Linked DNA regions of Homo sapiens. The protein of the gene in region 1 binds, or shares a complex with, the protein of each later gene. Each region holds a gene or a part of one and is shown on either strand. Other genes may lie near its edges.

What was found.
Region 2: BRF2 (region 1) and BDP1 share a complex: the UniProt entries of both Homo sapiens proteins name them as parts of the TFIIIB complex.

What each region holds. Positions count from the first base shown.
Region 1 is NC_000008.11:37,846,862-37,857,334, forward strand, and holds the start of BRF2 (transcription factor IIIB 50 kDa subunit), read right to left. Parts: upstream 3,001-10,473; 5' UTR 2,923-3,000; coding exon 2,769-2,922; intron 1,795-2,768; coding exon 1,735-1,794; intron 315-1,734; coding exon 1-314. UniProt on the Homo sapiens protein: General activator of RNA polymerase III transcription. Factor exclusively required for RNA polymerase III transcription of genes with promoter elements upstream of the initiation sites.
Region 2 is NC_000005.10:71,505,373-71,515,994, reverse strand, and holds part of BDP1 (transcription factor TFIIIB component B'' homolog), read right to left. Parts: intron 6,531-10,622; coding exon 4,844-6,530; intron 3,755-4,843; coding exon 3,567-3,754; intron 2,811-3,566; coding exon 2,588-2,810; intron 1,052-2,587; coding exon 873-1,051; intron 1-872. UniProt on the Homo sapiens protein: General activator of RNA polymerase III transcription. Requires for transcription from all three types of polymerase III promoters. Requires for transcription of genes with internal promoter elements and with promoter elements upstream of the initiation site.

The DNA.
Region 1 (10,473 bases):
ATAGGTCTTCACCAGTTCTGCCAAGCACAGAGATGGCACATCCAGTCCCAGGAGCTTCACTATCTGCATGTAAGTGCTAGAAAACACATCCAAATCTGCATACAACAGCGTGCAGATGGCCCCCATTGTTAGGGGCCAGTTATGCTGTCGGCAGGTGATTAAGACGCAGCACCCAACCAACACCTCCTTCTTTTGCAGCCTGGCCGCTCGGATGCCAGAGTGCCGATATGCCTGTTGGTAGTAGGCAACCGCGGTATCCTCAAATGTTGGTGGCAACTGCAGAACTCGACAAAGGTCTCTCACTCGCCGGAGACCTAGGAAAAACCCACGGCAAGAGTTAGAGGGGTCAAAGGAGCTATCGTGCAACTCCTAGAAAATTCTGCTAGGACTTACTTAGATCTGCTAAACTTGCCTCAGATATCAGATGCACAAATTATGTACCTTTCTGCATAGACAGGAGTGACACTTGGTATAGTCATTCTAAAGACACAAAAACATTTGTGTAAAGAAGTCACATTTCAGCCCACTAGTTTTTGCAGGCTGGTTTGATTCAGGGCCAAGCCCAAGTTTTATCCAGGCTCTTAGAGGCTACCTCAAACATACGTCTGATCAAACCCAAACCTTATACTGAATTGCTGCCTCTCTCAGAACCATCCCTATTTGTTTTATTTATTTTATTATTTTCTGAGACAGAGTCTGGCTCAGTTGCCCAGGCTGAAGTGCAGTGGCGCCATCTTGGCTCACTGAAACCTCCTCCTTCCAGGTTTAAGTGATTCTCCTGCCTCAGCCTCCCGAGTAGCTGGGATTACAGGTGTGCACCACCAGGCCCAGCTAATTTTTGTATTTTTAGTAGAGACGGGGTTTCACCATGTTGGCCAGGCTGGTCTTGAACTCCTGACCTCAAGCGATCTGCCCGTCTCGGCCTCCCAAAGTCTGGGATTACAGGTGTGAGCCACCATCCCCATTTTAAATTCCTAATTACCATTCTCTTCTACTCTACCTCACACCAGCAATGCTGAAAATAGGAAAAGTGAAAAGCTGGGCTAGGCCACCAGGATAGTTTTCTTTTATTATTATTATTATTATTATTATTATTATTATTTTTTGAGACAGAGTCTCGCTCTGTCACCCAGGCCGGAGTGCTGTGGTGCGATCTCGGCTCACTGCAAGCTCCGCCTCCCGGGTTCACGCCATTCTCCTGCCTCAGCCTCCCGAGTAGCTGGGACTACAGGCACCCACCATCACGCCCGGCTAATTTTTTTGTATTTTTAGTAGAGATGGGGTTTCATCGTGTTAACCAGGATGGTCTCAATCTCCTGACCTCGTGATCCGCCCGCCTCGGCCTCCCAAAGTGCTGGGATTACAGGCATGAGCCACCGCGCCCGGCTCATTATTATTTTTTTGAGATGGAGTCTCACTCTGTCACCCAGGCTGGAGTGCAGTGGCGCGATCTCAGCTCACTGCAACCTCCACCTCCCAGGTTCAAGCGATTCTCCTGCCTCAGCCTGCCAAGTAGCTGGGACTACAGGTACATGCCACCATGCCCAGCTAATTTTTGTATTTTTAGTAGAGACGGGGTTTCGCTATGTTTGCCAGGCTGGTCTTGAACTCCTGACCTCAGGTGATCCACCTGCCTAGGCCTCCCAAAGTGCTGGGATTACAGGCGTGAGCCACAGCACCTGGCCTAGGATAGTTTTCTTTAAAGCCACTGTGTTGTAAAAGGTCAATTCTCACCTCGTTGCTGGCTGCGACTAACTTGTTCGTTTTCCCCTGTGCTTCGGGAATATGTTACCTCTGTAAGATAATAAACAACAAATAGTGTGCTTAGCCTTTATTCATCAGACCCCTGCCCTCCCACCACACAAAACCAGGACGCAAAATTCAAATCATTGAGCATCTGCTGCTGCACAGTTAAAGGCCCCATCTGGTTTTCTATGTCTACAAGAGGTTCCGAATACACAGAGACTGGGAAAGGTTAGGACTGCATTAAAGCAGCTCCAAGTGTTCCAAATTTCCAGTCATCCTTCCAGTACATTCCATACAGGCAATTTTCCTAGCAGCAGATTTTGTTGTTGTTTGTTTAAGGAGTTTCCCTCTATAGTCCAGGCTGGAGCACAGTGGTGCGATCACAGCTCACGGCAGCCTTCAACTTCCAGGCTCAAGCAATCCTCCTACCTCAGATTCCTGGGTAGCTGGGATTACAGGTGTATGCCACCATACCTGGCTAATTAAAAAAAAATTTTTTTAGGCACTTGTCTCGTTACGTTACCAAGGCTGGTCTCGAGATCCTGGGCTCAAGCAATCCTCTCGGCTCTGCCTCCCAAAGCACTGGGATTACAGGCGTAAGCCACCCCACCCAGACAATGGCTGCAGATTTTGAGGGCTGCACTGGTCAGAAACTTGGAAAGCAAAGAAAAGTGATGTTTTGCCAGTTTGTGCTTAAAACTATTTCAGGGTAATAATACCTGCTATAATCGTATCGGCAATCCTTCCACAATGACCAGACATGGCAAGATGAGTGGAACTTTTGTTTCTGTCTCACTTATTCAATATTTATTACACGCACCATCTATGCCCGATACTAAGTGCTGGGAAAACACAGATGAATGGCAGCCCCCATCTCCTTCAGCTCCCTCGCTCACTTTAGGTCATTTTCTCTCAAATTAAGTGTGTGCGTTACAGTTAGGAGTATGGGGGGAGCGGGGAGGCAAAAGGAATCTGATGTTAATCCCTCCACCGCCCCAGGCTGTCCCCAGGGCCACAAGTACCTCGGAGATTGCCCTCGTCGCTGAAGGTAGTGGTAAGGACCCCCTCGGTGACCACGCAGCCGCAGTCGGAGCACACCAGCTGGCTCTGCGAATAGTGCGAGTCTTCCACCAGCTCCGTGGAGCCGCAGTCCGGGCAGCGGCCTCTGCCTGGCATCTCACAACCGGCCCCAAAGCCGCGGAAGCCTTCAGAGACTCCTGGGTCTGCAACAGCAACCGTGAGGCAGCAAGAAGTAGGAGGGGACACTTCAAAGGGTTGCACCCCCGTCTTCCGGCCAGCGCGACGGAGGCATAGGCGGTTCCCTCCGCTGGGAGGCTGCGCGCCACTTCCGGTCTGTGCCTCCGCGGGCTCGGGTAGAAACGTGAGCTAGGAGAGGAGGTTCCTGGGCTGAACTGTAGCTGTCTGGTTTCCCTGCACTCTGTAGTTAGTTTTTGGGACCTAGACTGGGGTTGAATTTGGGAAAGTTTTTGCCTACATGGACACGTATAACAGACAGAAGATTGTTGTCACCCCTGAACAACCCTCCTTTTAAAGTCCTAAGGGAATCGCAGGTTGGTAATGAATGTTTAATTGGCCATAGAAGAAAGTATATTTTTTAAAGGGAGAGTAGTGGAGAGAGAGCGGGAGCAGGAAACTGTGTTCTGCTTTCCAGAGCTGCTTCCTAAAGCAGATTCCTTCCTCTCTTTACCTCCTGTTTTTCTCAACTGTAAAATGAGGAAGTTGAAAAAAAAATCCAGAGATGCAAACCCAAACGCTTTTGGAGGCCAGGCAGGAATGTCTAAAGGAGTTTGGAGTGAAAGAATATGGAGTGATGGAGACCTGGAGCGGCGCAAGCACGCAGATTCAGATGTTTTTTAAAAAACCTTGAGCTATCTGGGCGTGGTGGCTCACGCCTGTAATCCCAGCACTTTGGAAGGCCGAGGCAGGTGGATCACCTGAGCTCGGGAGTTTGAGACCAGCCTGGGCAACATGGTGAAATCCCGTCTCTACTAAAAATACACAAAAATTAGCTGGGCGTGGTGGTGCACGTCTCTAATCCCAGCTACTCAGGAGGCTGAGGCAGGAGAATCGCTTGAACCCAGGAGGCGCAGGAGGCGCAGTGAGCCAAGATCGCGCCACTGCACTCCAGCCTGGGTGGCAGAGCGAGACTCCATCTCAAACAAAATAAAACATACCTTTAAGAAGTGTCACTCCCTTCTTTTCCACACCCAGTTTTTACACGTGATATCCAAACCTAAAGACACCATCCCTTCCCTAAGAGACTGCTTTCTCAGAGTGTGAGAATCACTACTCCTTTTCAGAGACATCCCGTCCATTCCCATGGGGATCGCTCACATTGGAGGGCCAAGAGACACAATAATACCCAACGGTCCTTTCTCTTCAATTTGAATTACTTTAGTATCATAACAGAAGGGGGCTTCAGCACATTAATCGTGGGTGGGATCCGGCAGTCCAAGCCCCCCCGCCTTTTCTAGACCTCCCCACTAGCGTGAGATACAGGATGAGAGCTTATTTCTGGCTGTCTGACAGTTAAATATTAAGATACATTTGCACATGCGCACCCGCACACACACACCACTCAGAGACATCCATTAGTTTTAGTGTGGTTGACATTCTTATTTGGATGAAGAAAGTGTCCCTGAAAGCGACATAACTTGCACTGGGAACAGTTCCTTGCATGATCACACAGCAGAGCATCAGACTCCCCTCATCCCCAGTTGTGTGCAGATCTTGAACCTACCTTCACTTTTTTTTTAAGCGGGACTTTACAGAGCCCATCTACCTAGGACAGAAGCCTTGAAATCCTGCCTGACCCAACCTGATTGATTGTAAAGTGGAAAAGCAGTTTTATGATCCTGCAGCCAGCCACGGAAGGAGAAAGCTGGTTGTCTTTCCCAGTCACACATGATGTACTTACTGGGAGCCTAGGAGAGCCTGGTCCTCGGGCACACACAGGCTGGGAGGGGGCAGGGTCCAGGCCAGAAGATGGCGCCCTCTACTAAGATGTGTAAGTTTGGGGTTCTCCACTTTCTCAGGAAGAAGTCCATTTATTTGGGAAATGTATTTGCCTTGCTCCAGGAAATCTGGACAGACGTGGAAATCATCTTGGTGCCCTCTCCACTGCTCCCAGTTCTTCTAAGAGTTATCATTCCTGGTAGTGATTATCTTATTTTTTAATTTTATTTATTTATTTATTTTGAGAGGAGTCTCACTCTGTCGCCCAGGCTGAAGTGCAGTGGCACAGTCTCAGCTCACTGCAGCCTCCACTTCCCGGGTTCAAGCAATTCTTCTGCCTCAGCCTCCCAAGTAGCTAGGACCACACGCGCCCACCACCATGCCTGGCTAGTTTTTGTATTTTTAGTAGAGATGGGATTTCACCGTGTTGGCCAGGCTGGTCTCAAACTTCTGACCTCAGGTGATCTGCCCACCTCGGCCTCCCAAAGTGCTGGGATTACAGGCATGAGCCACCATGCCTGGCAGTGATTATCTTTTTAACAGATGCCCCGAGTGCCCAGGGTGGGCTTGGCCAGAGCAGAAAGCTAGTCATGGGGAGGCCATTGAACAGCAGCCCAGCTGTGGTCCAGATGTATAATGCTGACATTGAGGCCAGAGTTCTTTGTAGAGGGGAGAGTAGAGGAAGGCACTGAGGAAGAGGAGGATCTGGCACCTGAATGCAGTCCTCTTCCTCCCTCGATTGGCTGTGTACATTCTAGTTCGTTGTTTGACTTTCTCTTTGAATGGAAGTCTCTATGGGAACAAGCTGGCTTTCTCATCCTTGTGTCCCCAGGAGTACCTCCTAAAGTGAGGGCTGGCATTCAGTAAAGAGGAGTTCAACTCCCGTGAATTCCTGTCCTAGGTGGGCCTATCCAAAGCACCAAATGGGCCAGGCACGTGGCTCATGACTGTAACCCTAACACTTTGGGAGTCTGATGTGGGAAGACAGCTTGAGGCCAGGAGTTCGAGACTGTCCTGGGCAACATAGTGAGACCGCAGCCCCTCTCAAAACAAATAGCAGGGTATAGTGGTGTGCACTTGTAGTCCCAGCTACTTGGGAGGCTAAGGCAGGAGGATCACCTGAGCCCAGGAGTTAAAAGGTTGCCATGAGCTATGATTGCACCACTGCACTCCAGCCTGGGTAACAGAGTGAGACCCTGACTCAAAAAAAAAAAAAGGATGAAGAAGAAGGAGCACCACATAGACCCAGTTCCTCTGAAGCAGACCCATTTCCATCTAGAGCAAGTGACTGCTGAGAGTGGGCTGCTCTCCAGGCCTGCCTTCCAGCCTCAGCCCTGGGCTCCTCTCAGCTTAGCTGATGATGCTTTGCGACCCCGACCCAGTTTCACCGAGCCCTGAGTACAGCTCGCACGGTGGCACTGGGCCTGGCAGTTGCCTCAGATTTGGAGCCTTTCTGACTGGACTTCCTTCCCACCACTCTTTAGTGGGCACTTCCCGATGAGATAGCCTCAGGGCAGAGCATGGCCAGGGCTTCCCAAATCCCCGTGCCAAGCACCTTTCCTCACTCATATGCAGCTTCCCCTCTGCATAGTTTAGTCTGCCCCTCCCAGCCATTTCTCTCTGGGCTAAAGATTCACACGTTCAATTTCTTGAACTCCTAGGAACAAAGGCATCTGGTAACTCCAGGAAGGTGGTCACAGCACAGACCTGGTGCACTGCGTAGTCCAGGGCAACCTGACCTGGAACGCCTCTCTGCTGGGAGGCTGAGGCTCATCTGGCCTTATGGAAAGTCCTGAGAGAGGATTGAGTCATATGGCCTCCATTTTCCTTGCCCGCCCCAATCCTCCGCAATTCCAAGTAAATGATATAATGTTATATTCCTGCCCCTCAAAGCGATCCTAGCCTAGGGGTTGGCAAACTTATTCTTTTCTATTTTTTAAAAATATTTTTAATTAAAAAAATTTTTTTTTGTAGAAACAGGATCTCACTATGTTTCCCAGGCTGGTCTCAGACTCCTGGGCTCAGGCGATCCTCCTGCCTCCGCCTCCCAAAATGCTGGGTTTACAGGCATGGGCCACCACACCCAGCCATCAGACTTACCCGGCCATCATACCTTTTCTATAAAAGGCCAAATAGTAAATATTTTGGGTTTTTGGGACAATAGCTACTCTGTTGCAATTACTCAACTCAGCTGTTGTAATGTGAAAACAGCCATAGACAGTTACGTAAACAAACAAACGGTCATGGCTGTATCCAATAAAGCTTCATCTATGGGTGCTGAAATTCAATTTCATATGATTTTTTGTTTTGTTTTAAAACCAAAGTTTATTCCGGCCAACTTATCGTACTGGTATGATAACAGCTCATAGATCAGAAATGGTCTGTTTTAAACCTTCCTATCCATATTGAACACAATGATGTTGAGGTAAAAGGGGCCCTTTCTTCTTCTTCTTCTTCTTTTTTTTTTTTTTTTTTTTTGAGACAGGGTCTTGCTCTATTGCCCAGGTTGGAGTGCAGTGGTACCATCTCGGCTCACTGCAACCTCCATCTCCTGGGTTCGAGCAATTCTCATGCCTCAGCCTCTTGAGTAGCTGGGATTACAGGTGTGTGCCGCCACACCCAGCTAATTTTTGTATTTTTAGTGGAGACAGGGTTTCACCATCTTGGCCAGGCTGGTCTCGAACTTCTGACTTCAGGTGATCCACCCACCTCGGTCTCCCAAAGTGCTGGGCTTATAGGCATGAGCCACTGCACCCAGCTGAGAGACCCTTTCTCTAAATGAAAATACAATACTTATCCTATGTACTTCTGGAGGGTCCAGAGATGTGGAAGTCATGTATTCGTAAGAATCGTATTAAACAATCTTTATTTGAAAAATAGTACCAATAGTACCATACAATCCTAATGCTATCTAACTTTAATAAGAGCAATTTCAGCATCAACTAGTGAACAGTAGCTAAACTAACAGAAATCAGTCAGAAGTGCTTTAACAGGAGCAGCACTGGCTGACATTCTGCTGGGTCTCTAGGTATTCAGGACCCAGGGAAAACAGAATCAAACCGGCAGGGGTGAGAGCTGAGAGCCGAATGGTCACGTTAGAAAGGCAGCACCCCGGCCTCCAGCAATGAGCAGAGTGACTCAGCCTCCATCTCCCGTCCCTCAGGAGCACAGTGAGCTCCTGCCCAGGACCCATTTCTCGGCTTCCCTTCACCAGACTCCCACCAGATCCCCACCGGACGATGGTGGTGGCCTCTCTGGCCCTACCGGGGACTGGGAGCAGGGAGGGGAAGGGTGGCTGACGGGCATGAGGTGAGCAGGCAGCCTGTGGTCTCTGGGTGCAGCCTGGTCTGGCCAAGGCGCCTCCTCAGGGCCCGCCCCTGCCCTGGTACAGGCCTCTATATAATTTTCTTTCCCCTGACATGGAAGTTTCGTTGTGTCGCCCAGACTGGAGTGCAGTGGCATAATCTCGGCTCAATGCAACCTCTGCCTCCTGGGTTCCACCAATTCTCCTGCCTCTGCCTCCCAAGTACCTAGGATTACAGGTACCCGCCACCATGCCATGCCTGGCTAATTTTTTTTTTTTTGAGACAGAGTCTCGCTCTGTTGCCCAGGCTGGAGTGCAGTGGTGCGATCTCGGCTCACTGCAAGCTCACACCATTCTCCTGCCTCAGCCTCCCAAGTAGCTGGGACTACAGGTGCCCACTACCACGTCTGACTAATTTTTTTTGTATTTTTAGTAGAGATGGGGTTTCACTGTGTTAGCCAGGATGGTCTCGATCTCCTGACCTCATGATCCACCTGTCTCAGCCTCCCAAAGTGCTGGGATTACAGGCGTGAGCCACCACACCCGGCCTAATTTTTGTATTTTTAGTAAAGATGGCGTTTCACCATGTTGGCCAGGCTGGTCTTGAACTCCTGGCCTCAGGTGATCTGCCCACCTTAACCTCCCAAAGTGTTGGAATTGCACATGTGAGCCACTGCACCCAGCCCTCCATATAATTTGTATGTGTCATGAAATACTGTTGTTTTGGTTGTTTTCTTTATTTTTTGGAGACAGGGTCTTACTCTGTCACCCAGGCTCCCTGCAGCCTTAAACTCCTGGGCTCATGCAGTCCTCCCTACTTGGCCTCCCAAGAAGCTGGGACTATAGATGTGCACCATGCCCAATTTATTCATTTTTTATTCTCTATTTTGTAGAGATGGTGGTGGGGGGCGGTCTCACTATGTTGCCCAGGCTGGACTCAAACTCCTGGGCTCACAGTATTGTGCCTCAGCTTCCGAAGTGCTGGGATTACAGGCGTGAGCCTCTGCACCCAGCTGACTTTTTTTGAAGCATTAAAAAAAAAAATGTAAAAACCATTCTTGACTTGAAAAGGCTGTACAAAAACAGGAGGCAGGCTGTAGTTTGCTGACCCCTGTTCTAGGCCTGCAAGTCAGACAGGTTATAAGATCGAATCCTCTCTTAACAACTCACAGTGTGACTTAGGCAAATGAGAGTGCTGCTGCCTCTCTGGGTCTGTTTGCCCAGCTGCACGATGGAGACATTGACCTGAATGAGAATTATTAAAAATAGTACACCTCAGTGCTTCAAGAAGCAGGCCTTCCTTTTGCAGTCAAGGTTTAGCCTGAAGTGAGCAGTCCATAAGGACAGAGGCAGCTTATTCTCAACTCTGAGAGCCATATCATGTCCCCAAGGCGATTCTTTCCCAGGCTCAAGACACAGGTTTCTGTGTAAAGTAATAGAAAGTCAAAAGGCCGAGTAAGGACATATCCCCTTAGGAGGCTTTTTGGCATTGGGAAACCCTGCCCTCAAAGGGCTCAAGGAAGCCAGTTTCGAGTCAGAAGTGATAGTTCATGACGTCCCAGTAGGGGAAAACTGCAGGGCCCAAAAGCTGACACCCGCAGAGCAGCCCAGGGGCAAGCTGCCTGTGTTGAGAGACTGGGTCCAAGGGCTAATGGCGGCTGTCGTGCTGACCACTGGCCCCAGTAAAGAATGGTAACCACGCCCGGTAAGTGACTGTTTTCCTGGTTGGGAGTGGGCAGGGTGTCCCCGGCAAGTCCCCACTTTGATCCACAGGTGGCTATGATTATAACCTGGGCCGGAAGGGACCTAGATTATCTTTGTGACTGCTGCAGCTTTTTTTTTTTTTTTTTTTTTTTGCCAAAGGGAATTGTTAGCCAGGAAAGTTTCTCCTGGGAATCCTATCAGTCCTTGTCGCAGAACACACATAGCTGCCAGCTACCAAGTCGTGGAGATACGTTCAAAACAGTACAGACGGTGTGATCCTATCTTCCTTGTAAAGTGTGGCTATTTACATGAGAGGAAAAATCCTGAGACAAGTCAAAACTACAGTGGTTACCTCTTGGTAGTGAGGAAATTAGGACTTTTTTCTTTTCCAAGAACAAACATGTTATGCTGTTACTTAGAAAAATCTGGAGTGAGGGCTGGGAGCGGTGGCTCATGCTTGTAATCCCAGCACTTTGGGAGGCGGAGGCGGGTGGATTGCCTGAGGTCAAGCTGGCCTCAGAGACCAACCTGGCCAACATGGTGAAACCCCATCTCTACTAAAAATAGAAAAATTAGCCAGGCATGGTGGCAGGTGCCTGTAATTCCAGCCACTCAGGAGGCTGAGGCAGGAGAATCGCTTGAACATGGGAGGCAGGGGTTGCAGTGAGCTGAGATTGCAACATTACACACCAGCCTGGGCGACAAGAGTGAGACTTCATCTCAAAAAAAGAAAAATCTAGAGT
Region 2 (10,622 bases), on another chromosome or scaffold:
TGTAAAATTTGGATCTCCTCTAATAAACACTCTAAAAAATACTTTGTACCATTAAAGGGAAATTGCTTTCTGATTATAAACATCTTATTTTACAAAAGAAAACAGTTATGTCAATTCTTAAAAGGTAATAAACTTATATAATATGCCTAAAGTAGCTAAATATACAGATAGAATGGTGGTTGCCAGGAGCTGGAAGAGGAGGAGAATGAGTTAGTATTTAATGGGTAGAGAGTTTCATTTTATGAAGATGAAAAAGAAAGTCTAGAGATGAATGGTGGTGGCAACGGGACAACAATGTGAATACACTTAATGCCACTGTATATTAAAAAATAGTTAAAATGGTAAATTTTATCTTATGTGTATACTAATTTTTAAAAGTTAATGAATATATATAGCTTATATACATATAAGCTGAGTAGCCCTATCCAAAATGCTTAGGACCAGAAATGTTTCAGATTTCAGATTTTTTTAGATTTGGAAATATTTGCATTATACTTATCAGTTGAGCATCCCTACTTTGAAAATCCAAAATGCTCCACTGAGCATTTCTTGAGCATCATGTCAGCTCTCAAAAAGTTTTAAATTGTGGCACATTTCAGAATTTTTTATTAGGGATGCTCAACTTGTAGTTTTTAAATGCATTGCTTTGTATACACTCTTACGCAGCTGACAATGCAGATAAGCAGGCAACCATTAGAAGGTGTTGAATTCAATCTGATATTATATTTTAGGCAGTCTGCTGTATCAATAAAATTAAACCAATATTCTTTATGTTCACTTTTTAAATGCATTAACATATCTCAATAAAAATTAGAAATATTTAAAAGAAGTATCTCTCTTATTTTATATTGTCAAAGAAAATCACTGTTTACCCCACAGAAACAACTGAGTCATTTTTCTGGACTGGTGCTGACTGAGACTCCTCTTTAGGTTCACAAGAATTTGAAGGTGAAAGGTTCCTTTCAGTCTGTGTACATGGCAATATCACAGCCTCCTCATTCCTGTGACCTAATGTGTCTTTTTCTCTTGATATCATTAGGGAAGCTTCATCCTAGAAGACAGAAAAAAAATTTCATTCACAGTTGCTAAAAGTATAAGGAAATAAGAACTTTACAAGTATAAACTGATATCATCTTCGTGAAGAATAATAGGGTAGTCTATACCAAAATTCTAAATTCCCAGCAATTCCACTTCTAGAAATGTATCTTATAAATACTCAACAAGTAGAAATATACACACAAAAATATTTATTGTAACAATTTAAGCACCACCTCCCTCACCGGAAAAGACAAACAAAAAAATCAGAAATAAAACAGATATATCATTAGGGGATGGAATAAATAAATTTTAATTTCTTTACAATGCAATAGTACCTAATCATTTAAAAGAAGATATATCTCTTTGTACTGATCTAAAAAGAAGCTCACAATACTGTAAGTGGAAAAATCAGAAAGCAAGAATTAATGTCATTTTGGAAAACAATAAAAATACCTTCCCATTTTATCATTTTATAACTGTAAGACGAAAAAGTGTAAGTGGATATATTCAAAATTGCTGTATGATTAACTTGGGGGAAAGGGACGTGACATTATAAAAGACTCTCACTTTTTAGAATACATATATTTTTCCAAATTAAAATTTCTATAATCAGAAAGTATAATACAAATGTAACTTATCTTTTATGAATATAAGCTTAGGAGAAATAGTACAAATGTTGATGCACAGTAAAGTACTGAGCTATTTTAAGACATCAAATAAGAATTTTAATTCTAAGAAGGACTTCCACTGAATGTGGAAAACATTCAGTTTATAATTATTCATTTCGTTTCAATGTTTTTTTGATGGTATGTCACACAATCTTAATCTGTTATGGACCAAGTTAATAAAGTAAATAAAATATCACCTTTAACTCAAATCAAGCTTTTAACTCTTCATTTCACCTTCACAAGAGAGTGAAATAAAAAACGATTATTCTCGCTGGGCGCCACGGCTCAGCGTAATCCCAGCACTTTGGGAGGCCAAAGCAGGCAGATCACGAGGTTAGGAGTTCGAGATCAGCCTGGCTAACATAGTGAAACCCCATCTCTACTAAAAATACAAAAAAAAAAATTAGCCGGACATGGCAGCACGCGCCTGTAGTCCCAGCATTCAGGAGGCTGAGGCAGGAGAATCGCTTGAACCTGGGAGGTGGAAGTTGCAGTGAGCCGAGATCGCGCCACTGCACTCCAGCCTGGGAACAGAGTGAGACTTCATCTCAAAAAAATAAAAATAAAAAAAATAAAAAACTATTATTGTCATTTTTTCTATGAAGAAAATTGTTTAATCAATGGTCACATAGCTGGAACTGGAACCAGAGCCCAGACCTGAACGCTTTCCCACAACACGTTTGCCCATTATCAGATATCTGAGATTCTTACACAAATTATGTGGAACAATGAGGCACATTAAGCATGGGAGCAATATCACATGCAGCAAAAATTACACAGAAATATTTGTAGAATTTTAATGCCAGGTGCTTTTAGTAGTCCTAATAACTTAAAAAAAAAAAAAAACACCCACACAGAACTTCCATCTCAAATACACTCACATGTTGAGAAGGGAGAGTATCAGTTTGTTCATTATTTTCTTGCATCACAATAGTCTCCATTTTCTTGGTTTCTGATTTCTTCTCATATATATATTTTTCTGATTCTGTAGTCTCTCTCTTCAAAGCTGCTCTTGCTAAGTTTGGTTTTGGTCTTTTGAATCGGCTCCTCACAAAAGGTGCTGGTTTAATTTCAAGTGGCTTCTGTTCTTGAGGAAGAGATTTGCTTTTGGAACAAGGATTATCAAGCTTTAGAATGAACTGAAGGGGCAGTGGAAACGGAGTCTCAGTACAACCTTAGAGACTGGCGGTAAACATTTAATTTTTTTTTTTTTTTTTTTTTTTTTGGAGACAGGGTCTTGTTCTATCCCCCAGGCTGGAGTGCAATGACACAATCATAGCTCACTGCAGCCTTGACCTCCGCGGGCTCAAGTGATCTTCCCATCTGAGCCTCCCAAGTAGCTGGGACTACAGGCATGTGCCACCACACCCAGCTAGTTTTTGTTTTTTTATTTTATAGAGATGGGGTTTCTACAGCGTGTTGCCCAGGCTGGTCTCAAACTCCTAGGCTCAAAGGATCCACCCACCTCAGCCTCCCAAATTGCTAGGATTACAGGTGTGAGCCACCATACTTGGCCTAATTCTAATTCTTAACAGGAAAACAAATCGAACTATCTGGCAGATCCTGAAAACCATGAGTGGTACAATCCAGGTATGAGCCTAGGAATTACACCATCTCTGCACAAAGAAAATATGAGTCTATCAAACCTGTATTGATTTAAGACTGTTACATACAATTTTGTATGTCAGTAACTTTCACAATTGACTGTCAGAGTGACCTCAATCCTCTCTCCCAGTCTTCCCAAAACTATCTTAAAAGCTCTAACACTATCCTGTATATGTTATATCTTGAAACCTCACTTAGTTTAACGTAATCTGCAACTATAACTTAATATCTTTTTCTTTAAAAACACACTTGTACCTTAAATTAATATCTGAAAACTGCTCTGGAACATCTGGAGATTGAATCCCCTGGACTTCTGTTTTATCAGATTCATGAGTCTGTGAAGAAATCTTGAAATGACTGAAGTGACTTGATACTTCTTTTTCAGAATTTCTTTTTTCTTCTACAGGTGTATGCATCATCGACAGTACTTCACTGCTAATGTTCTAGAGGAACAGTCATAGTAAATCAGCACAAATAAAAGAGTATTTAAACATCTTATATATTTAAAACAAAAGTCTACTAAATTCTAAACACTTTCCTTTAAAACTTTAGAAGTTTTTAATTTTTGAATAAAATTTAATTTCCAAATGTTAAAACTTGGAATTCAGGAAACCCTTTTATGTTGCATATTATTACTTTCCCAAACCACAAATGTCATTATCTATTTTTAAAAGTTAGAAAAAAAAAAAAGTCCTTGAAAATGTTAGAAGATCATGAACTTCAAAGTAACTTGAAAAAACAAAAAGAACTTTTAGAAGTGAAGTAAGTCAGGTGGGGCAAGAAACAAAAGCAGATACAGATGTGGCCAAAAGAAATAATGTGTGTTCACGCTAGGGTTAGTACAAATTCAGTCTAATTTCCTATTCTTCTTTTACCTAAAAGAGTAACTTCAAATGATATTAAGAACAGTGACATTTTTGAGATCTCAAACCTAAGCCAAAAGAAAAGTTTGATCCTTGCCCATCTGACTTAAAGAAAAAAAATAATAATAATAACAGTGACTTTTTCACAGTTGGAAATTATTTTTATTTCTTTTTGAGACAGGGTCTCACTCTGTCACCCAGGGTGGAGTACAATGGCACAATCACAGCTCACTGCAGCCTCAACCTCCAGGGTTCAAGTGATCCTCTCACCTCAGCCTCCCAAGTAGCTGGGACTACAGGCTTACACCTTGTTATTGTATTTTATTTTTTATTTATTTTATTTATTTTTATTTTATCTTATTTTTTGTAGAGACAAGGTCTCTCTATGTTGCCCAGGCTGGTCTCAAACTCCTGGGCTCAAGTAATCCTTCCACCTTGGCCTCCCAAAGTGTTGGGTTTAAAGGTGTGCCCAGCCTAAAGTTATCTTTTTAAAAAAGAACATACAGTTTCTTCAAGGCACTGAAACATAGAAACTTAGGGCTACAAAAGACTTTAGACTTTTAGAGATTTTTAAGTGTTGTTGGACTTAAGGACAAAATAATCATGGAATTATTTATTTCCTCTGAAAAAAGCATTCAAAAAACTTTTAAAGGACAGAAAAATACATACCTGAATATCTAGTGAAGGCACAGCACTGAAGTCATTGCTACCGCTCTGCATTAAATGTGTGTCAGTTTGTCTTGAGGTACTGGTCTCCTCTAGCTCGTTTTCCCTTGGAGAAATGTCTGTTTTTCCAGTTTGTTTCAATTCTGCCACCTTTTCCTCAGTAACACAGATCTCTTCAGATCCTCTCTCTCTAAAATTTTCTTTTCCAGTTTCTTTCAAATCTGCCTCCATTTCTTCAACAACAGCCATCTTTCCTGATACTTTCTCCATGATGGGAATGTCTCTTTTTCCAGTTTCTTTCAAATCAATCTCCTTTTCCCTTATAGCACTGAACTCTGCTAGCACCTTTTCCCTTTGGGAAATTTCTTCTCTAATTTCTTTCAAATCTGTCTCCATTTTACCTACAGGCTTGACCTCCTCTGGGCCATTTTCCTGTGGCGATATTTCTCTTTCAGTTTCTTCCAAATCTGTCTCTATTACCTCAGCAGCATCAATCACCTCTCGTGTCTTCTCCCTTGAGGAACCCTCTCTTCCAGTTGTTTTCAAGTCTGTCTCCATTTCATCTACAGGCTTGACCTCCTCTGGGCCATTTTCCTCTGGGGATATTTCTCTTCTTCCAGTTTCTTCCAGATCTTTGTCTATTTCCTCAGTGGCATCAATCACCTCTGGTGTCTTCTCCCTTGGGGAAATCTCCCTTCCGGTTGCTTTCAAATCTGTTTGCATTTCACCTAGAGGCTTAACCTCCTCTAGGCCATTTTCCTGTGGGGATATTTCTCTTTCAGTTTCTTCCAAATCTATCTCTATTTCCTCAATGGCATCAATCACCTCTGGTGTCTTCCCCCTTGGGAAACTGTCTCTTCCAGTTGCTTTCAAATCCGTCTCCATTTCACCTAGAGGCTTGACCTCCTCTAGTCCATTTTCCTGTGGGGATACTTCTCTTTCAGTTTCTTCCAAATCTATTTCCTCAGTAGCATCAATCACCTCTGGTGTCTTCTCCCTTGGAGAACTCTCTCTTCCAGTTGCGTTCAAATCTGTCTCCATTTCATCTACAGGCTTGACCTCCTCTGGGCCATTTTCCCTTGGGGATATTTTTCTTCTTCCAGTTTCTTCCAAATTTTTGTCTATTTCCTCAGTGGCATCAGTCACCTCTGGTGTCTTCTCCCTTGGGGAACTCTCATTTCCAGTTGCTTTCAAATCTGTCTCCACTTCACCTAGAGGCTTAACCTCCTCTGGGCCATTTTTCTGTGGGGATATTTCTCTTCTTCCAGCTTCTTCCAAATCTTTGTCTATTTCCTCAGTGGCATCAATCACCTCTGGCGTCTTCTCCCTTAGACAAATCTCTCTTCCCATTGCTTTCAGACCTGTCTCCATTTCTATGGTGTCATCAATCACATCTAGAATCTTCTCCCTGGGAGAAATGGCTCTTCTTCCAGTTTCTTTTAAATCTGACTGCATTTCTTTAGTATTAATCTCTGCTGGTACCATCTCCTTTGGTGAGGTGTCTAGTCTTACAGTTTCTCTCAATGCTGCCGCCATTTCCCCAGAGACAAGAATCTTCTCTAGTACCTCTTCCTTTGAGGAAATTTCTCTCCTTCCAGTTCCTCTTCCTATATTTGGCTTTGGTTTCTGAAATCGAGTCCTTAGAATTGGGACTTGGTTAAGTTTATTTGCCTTATTATTCTCTTGAACGCTATAAAAAAAAAAGGGGGCACACAATCAAGTTTTAAACCAGACTGCCTGCTGAAGAGATGATGTTTGAGAAATCACTACAGAAACACCAGAAACTCTCAAATTCAAAAAAATTAAGGAAGGCCTAGGAATCGCTGGGTAAAATTTAAAAATTAAAAGAAAAAAAATCCCACCTTTTGAAATCACAGCAATAAGTTTAAATATATATATATATCTAGTAAGGTCAATCAGTATAGAAGCTATTTGATCCTAACAGTGTCTTTCCAATTGTCATTCACACTACCATTTATAAATACTGACTGGGAAAGACTCTCCAGTTCTCTGCATTGGAGCTAGATTGATGTATGTCTGCTATTTCTACCTCTTCATCCCTTCTATCTTTTATACAGACAAATGGTTTGCCATAATAGACCTGACCACCTCAAATACCTGGATACAAGTATGACTTGACCAAGATTAAATCTTAGGACTACAAATGAGGTCTGCCCTCCTCACCTTTTAAAACCAATTTTATATGAGATTTCCTATACAGATAGTTCTCTAAAGGCTTGTTATTTCATAACATAAGTAAAGAATCAAAGGACAGACCAAATACACAATAATACTTTGCTGAATGCTACTGGGCACACAACCACTATCCAAAGCAAGCACCTTGCTCTCCAGAAAAGCAGCAGCACTTTTTGTTTTGCTTTCTGTTTATTATAATAGATGGTAAAATCAATAAACATATAAATGAATGAAAGGGCTTTTAAATGACTGGTTAGGAAAAGTTATTAATATTGGGCAAAAGCTAGATCAAATGAAACACTAGATTGTATTCGGCCATGTCGGACTGAACAGGTATATAACTATACATTCAACAGCTTAAAAAAAGACGTATTGAGCTGGGCATGATGCTTCATGCCTGTACTCCTAGCACTTCAGGAGGCTGAAGCAGATGGCTTGAGCCCATGAGTTTTTGGTAGAAATCCCATCTCTACAAAAAAAAAAAAAATTAGTCAAGTGAGGTGGCGTGCACCTGTAGTCCCAGCTATTCAGGAGGCTGAGGTGGGAGGATCACCTGAGCCCAGGAAGGATGAGGCTGCAGTAAGCCATGATCATGCCACTGCACTCCAGATTGGGCAAGAGAGCAAGATCCCATCTCAAAACAAACAAACAAAAAACAAAACAAATAAGCAAAAGATTTACTTAAAAGTATGCTAGGCTGGGCATGGTGGCTCAGCCTGTAATCCCAGCATTTTGGAAGGCTGAGACAGGTGGATCACTTAAGGTCAAGAGTTTGAGACCAGCCTGGCCAACATGATGAAACCCTGTCTCTACTCAAAATACAAAAATTAGCAGGGCGTGGTGGCACGCGCCTGTAATCTCAGCTACATGGGAGGCTAAAGCAGGAAAATAGCTGGAACCCAGGGGGCGGAGGTTGCAGTGAGCCAAGATCATGCCACTGCACTCCACCTGGGCAACAGAGTAAGACTCTGTCTCAAACAGAAACAAAAACAAAACAACAAAAGTATGCTATTGCTTGTTTCAACTTCTTTAGGTCCTATACTATCCTTCCTCACTGAAATAACTGTTTTCAATAATGCAATTTTTGATACTGTAAGACAGGTCCTTAGGAATAAGATTGCTTTTCAAATTGTACTTGTTTACATAACTGAAGTGTTTATATCCATCATTAACTTTAGCAATTGACAACGTTAAATGTAAAATTAACAGCAATCAATAAAGGAAATTTAATTTGATTAGTCCTGAATGGACCGCATTCCATTTTTTGATTTATGATACTTTTCATCTCCATCCAGAAACATCTAGCTTTTAGTGAGATTACTGTGCTAGCAATCTTGGTTTGGGTACCATGGGAAGAGATAAAATAAACTATCTTTATAAAGTCACATTTTGAAAACAGGCGTATTATTTAAACATATAAATGCTTGAAGCAAAGGCTTTATTAATAATTTCATTATTTCCATAACAGTTCAGATTGTAAGATACAGATATGCAATGTTATAATTATATTCTATGTGCTTAGATTTTTTAAACTGCCATTCCACCAAAGCAATAGATTGATTGTTTCTAAGTAACAAAAGAAGTACAGAATTAACTGAAGGGCAGTATCTGAGACTGGATATCAGATATAAAATTGAACTAGATTATTTCTCAACTTAAAATATACAGTGGATCTACGAACTTTCCTCAGATCACAAATTTGAGAAGAAAGGCAAAACAAGAGGATCATGAATGGAGAAAATAAGGTATGGAATGAGCACAAAACTATAAATGTGCTTTAAGGTCTGCATATGTGTTTTTCTAAAACACGGAGTTTAAGAATCTATAAAATATTCATGGCCAGGCGTGGTGGCTCACACCTATAATCCCAGCACTTTGGGAGGCCAAGGAAGGAGGATCCCTTCAGCCCAGGAGTTCAAGACCAGCCTGGGCAACATGGCGAAACCCTGTCTCTACAAAAAAATTTAAAAATTAGCCAGATGTGGTGGCATGCACCTGTAGTCCCAGCTACTTGGGAGGCTGAGGCAAGAGGATCAATTGAGCCCAAAAGGTGAATGCTGCAGTAAGCCATGATCACACCACTGCACTCCAGCCTGGGTGACAGAGCAAGACCCTTGTCTTTAAAAAAATATGGGTGTGTGTGTGTGTGTGTGTGTGTGTGTGTGTGTGTGTTTCAAATATATATATATATATATATATAAACCTCCAAACAAACATCACCAAATCACCAATCATGACAAAAAACTTAAAATATTTATATGAAGTAGGTAAGATGCAAAATTAACCTAGAAGATTAAATTTCAAAGAAATACTCACTAGTTTATCTAATAAAGTACCTTTTCTTTAATAGAGATGGGTCTTGCTATGTTGTCCAGGCTTGTCTTGAGTTCCTGGCCTCAAGTGATCCTCCTGTCTCAGCCTCCCAAAGTGCTGGGATTATAGGTGTGAGTCACCATGCCCAGCCTAAAGAATTTTTAATGCATTCTTTGAGAGACTATTTTCCTACTATCTCTCTTACATAGCATCTTGAACAGGCCAACATATGTGGAGTAGGAGAGGGGGAAAACTTTCTGTTAGACATAGGTGTATAATTTGATAAAACACAGAATCTTAGAATTGCTTTTGAGGATTCTGGAGATTCAAAGGCTAGAAAGGTCACATGACAAAGCAAAAATGACACTGCCCATGGAGAGGAAAGTTGTTGAGATCAGATTGAGTATTAGTTACAGTGTCCACCAGTGTTCTAAAACCCAGAGGCCATTCAGAAAAGTTTAATTTTCTACCAAGCCACAGTATCTATTAATAGACTCTAGTTTAAACTGAAAAAATATAAATAAAAAGAATAATTTGTTAGCTAACTGTAATTAAAATCCATATCAGAGATATGCAGCAAGCAATGTAGTCATACAAACTTCTACCTAGAGACTGTGTGCACATTAGTAAAATAATCCGGGCAGTGGGGAGGAATAAGAAGCAAAGGAATAGTGAAGGCAACAAGAAATAGAGAAATTTTTTTGTCTTCCAATGAAGATCTTTAAAGTAGTTCAGGAAACCTAGCTTTCACTCTCAGGTTAGGTACTTTTCTTTTTTGGAGGGACAGGAGTCTGTCTCACTTTGTTGCCCTGGCTGGAGTAAAGTGGCCCATTCATAGCTCCCTGCAGCTTCTAATTCCTGGGCTCAAGCAATCCTCTTCCTTCAGCCTTCCATGTAGCTAGATAGGCATGAGCCACCATGCCCAGCTAGGTACTATTTAAATAGGCTAATACAGCTGTAAGAAAGTATAGCATAGGCTAGCCTTTAAACGTAAAGACTGGTAAATATTAATTACTGAAACTGGACAGCAGGTATATGGGAGTCCACTACTGCACTTTTGCGCACATTAAACATTTCCAAGTTGAAAAGTTGAAATAGTATACCAGTAATTCCATCAGTCTGGCTTGGTACCCTCCAAGGAAGAAATAAAAAATAGAAAAGACTTTGACTATAAGCAGTATGGGTTTCTATACATAAGTTTTAAATAAAATTTATAAATCTTAAATAAAGGCAATATGTGCTCAATCTAATTCCAAAGAAACAAATATTTTAA